Regions from separate parts of the Homo sapiens genome. Here all the other regions are linked to region 3. Evidence: fine-mapped expression QTL. A gene starts in region 3. Each other region holds a variant in brackets. All regions are shown on one strand. Distances are from middle to middle.

Region 1 (2,500 bases), 52 kb before region 3:
TCACCCTTCTTGGAAGGTGATAGCCTTTCTTGGCCAGTGTGCTGGGTCGAAAACAACTTTTGGATCCTCCTGCCTACCCTGACAGCCCTTCAAGGCTCAGCAAAGGTATCAGCACAGAGCCACAACCAAGGGATCAAAAGCTTAAGTCACAAAACTGTAAAAAAAAAAAAAAAAAAAAAAAAAAAATCCCTTTTTTGATAGGCAGCCAAAGAAGCACCTTCACAGAGCTGGCTTTGCATGGCCTTTCAACCAAACTATTTCCAGCAGCACAGGCTCAGCAGCCCCACCAGGCCACCCAGTCCAGAGCACGGCTGCAACACTTCCCATGCTTCCCTCAAGCCTGTGACCCAGAGACCATGCTTTGTCTTGATTTTTATCTATTTTTTCAGGGGAAAGGGCTGAGAGAGGAAGGGGAGCCAGGCAGAAATACTGTGTTCCTAAAGCCCATGTGAAGAAATGCCCAGGCAAGAGCCACACTCTGAGGACTCGTCCAACATTCCCGGCTAAGCATCTACATCTACCTTTGTCTCCAAGCCTGTGGGGCTGATTGGCTGACTTTGGAAGAAGAGAAAGTGTGTGTCCCTGGAAACCTCTGCAGTGCCAATGGAAGTGTGCTCATTGGTGGGAAGGTCAACGGGAAGCTTCCACGAACCGACATGGGCCACCATGGGGATACACAGAAGGAACGAAAGAACTGAGGAGAAGTCATCCATTAGCAGGCGAGAACAAGAGGCAGTGACATTTGAGGGATCAGGAATAATGTGTTCCCAATTTATACCTACCTTGGTGAGGCCTGGGGAAAACCACTTACTGTTAGAGTTTTTGTCTGGTGACAATGATCAAAGGGAAAATAACGTTTACTGAAAGCTATGCTTTTACATATATTCTAGCATTTAACTCTTACAGAATTCCTAGGCGATACATATCATCATCGCTGTTTAATAGATGTAGAAACGGAGGCTCAGAGAGGTTGAGGGAGTAGTTCAAGTTCACGTGGCTGTAAGTGGTGGAGCCAGGAACAAGCCTGGGTTCCTCTGACCCCAAGTTTAATGTTAGTTTCATTATGCCTCACCACCTCCCAGCATTACAGGAAATCATCAGGGCTCCCCTACTCAGAATACACCAG[G/A]CAAATTCTGCCAAACAAAACTCATTCTGTTTTATTTCTTGAACAATAAGGTGCAGAGAGCTCAGAAGAGAACAAAAGCTCAGAAAAAAAAAAAAAAAAAAAAAAAAAAACCATGTTTGGGCTGGGTATGGTGGCTCATGCCTGTAATCCCAGCACTTTGGGAGGCCAAGGAGGGTGGATCGTCTGAGGTCAGGAGTTCGAGACCAGCCTGACCAACATGGTGAAATCCTGTCTCTCTTAAAAATACAAAAAATTAGCTGGGTGTGGTGGTGGGTGCCTGTAATCCCAGCTACCCAGGAGGCTGGGGCAGGAGAATTGCTTGAACGTGGAAGGCAGAGGTTGCAGTGAGCCAAGATCACACCATTCACTCCAGCCGGGGTGACAAGAGCGAGACTCCATCTCAAAAAGAAAAAAAAAAAAAAAAACCCTTGTTTGAACCTGATTTATAATAAAGGTTGCATCTCATCTTGATGGGGAAAGGAATGGTTCTATAATGTCGAGAAAACTGGCTCACTAAATGAATTTGGATCCCTCTCAAACACAATATATGAAAGTAGACTCTAAGTGGATGAAAAACCTAAATGTGAAAGCAAAGTTACAAAGCTAACAGAAGAAAGTGAAACAATACCTTTGTGAACTTAGGGCATGGAAGGTCCTCTTAAATAAAATCCCCAAGGCACGAACCAAAAAGCAAAAAGAAAAAAAAGTTGGTAGATTTGATTACATCAAAATTAGGGCTTCTGTTCAACAAAAGACACTGTGAACAAAGTTAACAGAGAGGTGGCAGAGTGGAAAGTGATATTTACAATGTCTAAACCCAACAAAGAATTAACATCTAACTACATATGTAACTCCTATAAATCAATGAGAAAAGAAAGGAAATGCAATAGAAAAATGGTCTGTAGATATGAATAGGCAGGTCACAGAAGTGGAAACCAGAATAGTCAACAGGCAGATGAAAAGATGCTCAAATTCGTTAGTAATAAGATAAATGAAAATGAAAGTAACAATAGATTCCACATTATACTCAACAGATTTACAAAATTACAATGTTGAGTAATATTGATTGTTAAACAGGATATGGGTAAATGGGAACCCCTCCGCGCCACTGGTGGGGGTCTAGACTGGCATAGCAGTTCCAGAGACTCACCTGGTACTGATTATCGAAACCAAGTTTGTATAAACCCTGTGACCCGACCAACCCACTCCTGAGTATAGATACTTGCATGGGGTCCATATGGGAACAAGTGAAAGGAGATTGTTCCCATAATGACAACATTATTGTTCACGGTACTGGGGAATTGGATGCAACTAGTTGCCCATCATTAAAGAATGGATAGACACAAAATATGATGGGTGCCAACTATGTGATAG
Region 2 (2,849 bases), 44 kb after region 3:
ACACACTTACCATATTGTTTTAAAATCCCTCTCTCACCAATAGATTGTGAGCATATTGAGTAGATACTAAGTGTTCTTCATTCAGAAACTTTCACAGAAGACATGCACAGTAAATGTGTGTTAAATCAATGCATGAATTAGTCAAGAGTAGGCGACACCCAGTGCTGAGACCAGGCTGAACTGGGAAAGGTATTTACACCAAGGCAGAGGTGAGGAGCAGAATCAAGGTTATAGCCAAGGAGACAGGGCAAACTGTGTAGTCCACAGATCAAGGACAAAGTAAGCAGAGGTAAATACAAATGGATAGCAGAAAGAAGAAGCTGAAAAGGAAAATGGTGCATGGAATGGTTAAGGATAAATGATATAGAACTAAAACTGTGAGGGACAAATGAGCCCTAATGTCAGATGCATGGTCTAGTGAGGAATGGAAGCTTAAAGCAAGGATTTGGTGACAGTGGAGTGTGGAAAATAATCATAGGAGTGAGAAGAAGGAGGTGTGGATCCTAGTCCCAGCTTTACTACTAAAAACTTGGGTGATCTTGGACAAATCTTTTCCTTTTCCTAGGAGGAAGTTTTCTCATCTACAAACTTAAATTGCATGTCTTACGTCACTTCTAAGTTCCCTCCCAGCTTGAACGTATCATGATCCTCCAACTACCATTCCACAGTATGATGGGGGAAAATTCTTCTGTTACATAAATAATATGTAATTTTTATAAATATATAAAACATATTTTACATGTAAATATAATATTGAATCTCCATTTTATTCTTTCTATTTCATCAGCCAAGGATGTTTCTTCTGTATTAACCTCAGTTCTTCTTCTGAAATCAAGCAGATTAAACTTCATTATTTTTGAGATCCTTTCTAGATATAAAATGTTTGTTGTTCTGTAATTTTCTTTGTTCATTGAACACTCTTTGTTCCTCTTTGTGCTTGGCACTGTGGCACTCTCTGTTCTGAATAAATCTATAATCCAGTTGAAACAACAACATCTTCAAAGTGATTAAGAGAAAAACCTAAGTTGTGTAACTTAGTGCTAAATTGTGTGTTATAGACTCTAATGAATTGACAGAAATGAGGGAGATGAAGGGTAGCTGAAGATATTGAGGATATAAGGAAGATTTCCTGGAGGAAGTGGGTCTTCCAGGATAGGAAAAAAGACAGAGATGAAAGGATGGATGGATGGATGGATGGATGGATGGATGGATGGATGGA[A/TGGATGGATGGAA]TAGGAAATAGTATATTCTTTTCTTTCTTTTTTTCTTTTTTTTTATTTTTGAGACAGGCTCTTGCTCTGACACCCAGGCGGGAGTGCAGTGGCACCATCTCAGCTCACTGCAACCTCTGTCTCCTGGGCTCAGGCAATTCTCCCATCTCAGCCTCCTGAGTAGCTATCATGTTGGCTAATTTTTGTATTTTTAGTAGAGGCAGGGTTTCTCCATGTTGTCCATGCTGGTCCTTGAACTCCTGGGCTCAAGTGATCTGCCTGCTCTGGCCTCCCAAAGTGCTGAGACTACAAGCGTATGCCACTGCACCTGGGCATAATAGGATATTCTTTTTTCTTTTTCCAAAAAAAAGTCTTTATGTTCCTTTACTGGAGCAAGATTCCTGATCAGTATACAGTGATGTATTTACTAAACAGAGACCTGTGCAGAAATTACATACTATCCATCTAGATAGGTTGTGACACTTTTGCCTATTGATGGAATAGTTCCATTCATCAAGTTCTATACATCAAAAACCTTTTGAATTTCACCAGACTGTCCATTAATTCACCTCTGAAAAAGTGGCATTTAATTTCAGCTACTGTATTTTACAGCATTAAAAAGCTTATGCATTAAGGTACTTCTCTGCACAATAGCATTGAGCAGACAGAGCTGAGTCCATTATTCCACCCAGATTCACATAGTCACATTTGAGAGCTTTATACCAGAGAGTAGGGAAAGTTACTGCTAACCACCACAGACTTCTTACTCTGAGAGCCTGTCTTCTTGGCCACATTTTATATAGCCAATGAAGACGTGCCAGCAACTGTCCCATGTATAACTTGGCATTAGAGCACCAGGTCTGTTGGATGGTGGTGGCAGGCACTATTATTTTATATCCAGGTAAAAGGCCAATTTTAAAAACTACCACTTGGAGATAAAAATCAAGGGCACAATATACTCAGAAAGTATTGAGCAATCCGGTATCTCAAATGATGTGAATAATTTCAGAAAACAATGGCAAATTTTACCCATGTTTCCCAGCTATGGAGATATTAGTACATTGATTCTAATCCCGTTACTCAGTTCACATAACCCTGAGGTCATCCTCCAAAGTGCATATCAAAAAATATGAAGTTAGAGTGACAAAGTTTGAAAGTGATGTTATACAAGTCAAACTTGGAAGGTCATTGGAAGCATACCTATGCTGAGAGAAAAGCATCAAATCTTTTGTGTACACATTTAGTTTTACTGTAACAAAGCAACTTGCACACTTTTAATGTTTGAAACTGAGCATCATCTTTCCTTTCCAGTGAAACAAAAAGAAAATTTAAAAATAAATGGAACAAAATTACAATAGAGAATGTCAATTCCAAATAAGATCCTACAGGTTCTGCTGATTCTCCCATTGAGTGGCAGGGCTCAAGTCATCATTAGGAGAGAATTTATTTTAAAAGTGTCATCTTAAACAGCAAGGATATCTGTCAAATGTCACAATTAAACATGCCAAAGGAGAAGCCATGTTGTCAAAATGCCCACTTAACCCACCCAAACATCTCAAACCCACCCTTTGCTGACGTTTTATAACCCCATTTTTTAAAGTTTCTTTTTTTTTAAACAAGAGAAAGTAGACAGATATATGTTGGTAAATGC
Region 3 (2,822 bases):
GGCCCACGGAGAAGGTGAGGCCGCAGCGGGCCGACTTGCCGCGGCCCAGGCGGTCGCCGCCGGCGCTGCTCATGTTGTAGAGGGACAGTGCGGCCAGCGCAGCCGCCGTACAGTGCGCGGCCAGGCCCCAGGACAGCACGATCTCCATGGCGCTCTGGATCTCGTACTTGGTGCACTTGGCGAAGCGCAGGCTCAGGCGCTGCGCCTCTTTGGCTATGCGCACCAGCGCCCGGCTCACCAGCGTCGACAGCTTGGCCAGCGCGTCCTTGGGCAGGCCGCCGGGGACCGCCGGGCCTGCCCGGGGATCCCGCGAACGCAGCAGCAGCGCCTCCAGCTCCTGGAGAGTCCAGGGGACCTCGTCTAGGTCCGGCAGCAGCCGCGAGCAGTGCTGGCCGGCGCAGTCCAGCCCCTCGGAGTCTTCCACCAGGGCAGTGTTGACAGTGTCAAAGCTGTTGTGCCGGCTGTGCATGGAGTCAGCTAGAGGCGGCCAGCAGCTCCCGCCATACGGGGACGCCGGGTGCGAGTCGGAACAGCACAAAGACAAGTTGGAGGAGCGCACCGAGTCCGCCGCGCCACCATAACCCGAGTCCAGCGTCAGATCCTCCAGCGTTCTCACCACGGGCTTCTTACCTCTCCTGGCCATCGCTGCGCCACTTCATGCTGCAGCCGCCTGGGAGCCAAAGGGAAGGAGCGGCGAGGAGCAGCGAGTGCCGCGGGGCGCGGGGAGAGCCGAGTCCGCGCCGCCTTGGCTCACTTTTCCACTAGCCGCTGCTACCAACTGTTAGTACTTTCGGCTGCCTCCCGGAACTGCCGCCGCTGGAATATACAGAGCAGACCCTGGAGTCATCTTCCAGAGTCCGGGCCGGAGCTGGGCGCAATGGGGAGCGAGCCAGGCCGGGAAGGAAGCTCCCGCCGGGGCTTGCCCCTTTCTTCCAAAATAAAAAGTGTCTAGACCGCTCTTCCCTGAGCCCCGCTGGGCGCAGTAGCCACCGGGCGCCGGCCACGGTGTTCGTGGGACTGAGACCACCCCAGATGCCGCCGCCGCCGCAGCTCCGCGGGCAGCTGGCTCCCGGCTCCCGGCTCCCAGTTCCCGGCCCTGGTTCGCTCGGCGCCAGCCTGCCCTGCACCGGAGCGCAGCAGCGGCCGTGGCGGCTGCAAACCTTGCCGAACCCCAGCAAACCCCGGGCAGCCAGTGGGACGGGCGTATGCAAAGCAGGGGCGGCGGAGAGCCAGTGGAATCGGAGAATGCTAATTACCTCGCTTTTTTTTTTTTTTTTTAAATCCCTCCTCCCCATGCGGCCCCGCCCCTCACACACGCCCCCGGCGGACACCGAGGCTGCAGGAAGTGGGGAGCAGTGGCCAGGGACTTGGGGAACCCTTGCAAGCGTAGAGACGTGGATGCTGCCCCCTGCTGCTGTCCCTGCCCGCATTCTCCCGGAGGGTGGTGGGTTGGGCCGGTGACCTCCCCACCTAGGTGTGCTCTCCACCGCGGTTCACAAGGTGTCTGCCTGACGGTCGCTCTCTCCCCTGCGGTTCGCATTTCACTTTTTTCCCCCCGTAACACCTGAAACATGGTTTTCCTCCCTCTCTATTCCCACTTCGGGTACGCAAACCAATTAGTGCGGCCCTCTTTCAGCCGGGGTTTGCTCCAGCATGGAGGGAAATAAGCCTGTCGAGCGGAGGCCCGTGGCGGTGGACACCACTGGGAGGCCGGATCTCCGGCCATTCGCCACCTGCCACTAGGGCGCGTTAACTCGATTCCTTTCAGTAGCCAGGAGGACCCTGTCCCTGCTTCAAAGTCCTGGGCGTGTGCTGCAGGGAGGGCTCAAGCACCACTTTGCCATCCTGGTGGGCATCTTTCCAAATAGCTCGGCCTTCTTAAAAGGAGTAAATTTGCTCAAAGGAGAATCTTCTTTCCTGACTAAAGAAAGATATAATATATATATGCATGGCTTAGCTGCATTCCTGTGTCAAATAGCATCGTGTCATCTACTTGTCTGTCCCCACCCACCCAGGCAGAAACCATATCTTACACACATGGGGATTCCTAGCTCCGCACACTGTGTCTCTCAGCTTAGAATCCCCTCCTATAGGAAGCTGGCCCAGATGTTTCAAGACTGGCTTCGGTGCTTCCACTGCCTCTATCCCCTTCTGTGGTTGCTGATTTCTGGGCCCTTGCAACACTAGGTTGCAAAAGCCTGGTTACTTGTCTGGATTCTACACTGGGCTAGGGGTTCCCATGCATAGTCCTGGCACAGTATAAGTGCTCAGTAAATATTTGTTGTAAATTGATGAAGGACGTAAGGATATGCTTTTAAATTGTTGCTTTGAATGTTCAACAATGGCCAACAGGTATATGCAAATATGCTCAACATCACTAATCATTCGGGAGATGCAAATCAAAACCACAATGAAATATCACTTCACACCTGTAAGGATGGCTATTATCAAAAAGTCAAAAGATAACAAGTGTTGGCAAGGATGTGGAAAAAAGAGAACCTTTGTACACTGATGGTGGGGTGTAAATGAGTACAGCCATTATGGAAAACAGCATGGAGGTTCCCAAAAATAAAAATAGAACTACCATGTGATCCAGCAATCCCACTTCTGAGTATACACCCAAAGAAAATAAAATCTCAGTCGAGTGCAGTGGCTCTCGCCTGTAATGCCAGCACTTTGGGAGGTTGAGGCGGGCAGATCACTTGAGGTCAGGAGTTGGAGACCAGCCAGACCAACATGGTGAAACCCCATCTTTACTAAAAATACAAAAATTTGCCAGGCATGGTGGTGCACACCTGTAGTCCCAGCTACTCGGGAGGCTG

What was found. PIP is the estimated chance that this variant, and not a neighbour inherited with it, causes the effect.
Region 1: its variant is fine-mapped to the expression of ABTB3 in whole blood (TOPMed, PIP above 0.99).
Region 2: its variant is fine-mapped to the expression of ABTB3 in monocytes (Fairfax 2014, PIP 0.95). The same link has a PIP of 0.9 or more in monocytes after interferon gamma.

What each region holds. Positions count from the first base shown.
Region 1 is chr12:107,368,444-107,370,943 of GRCh38, reverse strand. The region is part of intron 1 of ABTB3 (ankyrin repeat and BTB domain containing 3); the gene reads right to left. Among named protein-coding and RNA genes, the nearest start is that of ABTB3, 51 kb to the right of the region's middle. The variant G/A (reference allele first, on the strand shown) is at 1,127.
Region 2 is chr12:107,272,259-107,275,107 of GRCh38, reverse strand. No RefSeq gene overlaps it. Among named protein-coding and RNA genes, the nearest start is that of ABTB3, 45 kb to the left of the region's middle. The variant A/TGGATGGATGGAA (reference allele first, on the strand shown) is at 1,220.
Region 3 is chr12:107,316,762-107,319,583 of GRCh38, reverse strand. It overlaps ABTB3 (ankyrin repeat and BTB domain containing 3), which reads right to left and starts at 1,150. Exons shown (of 17, transcript NM_001018072.2): 1 at 1-1,150. The coding sequence starts at 643. RefSeq lists an enhancer at 1-648.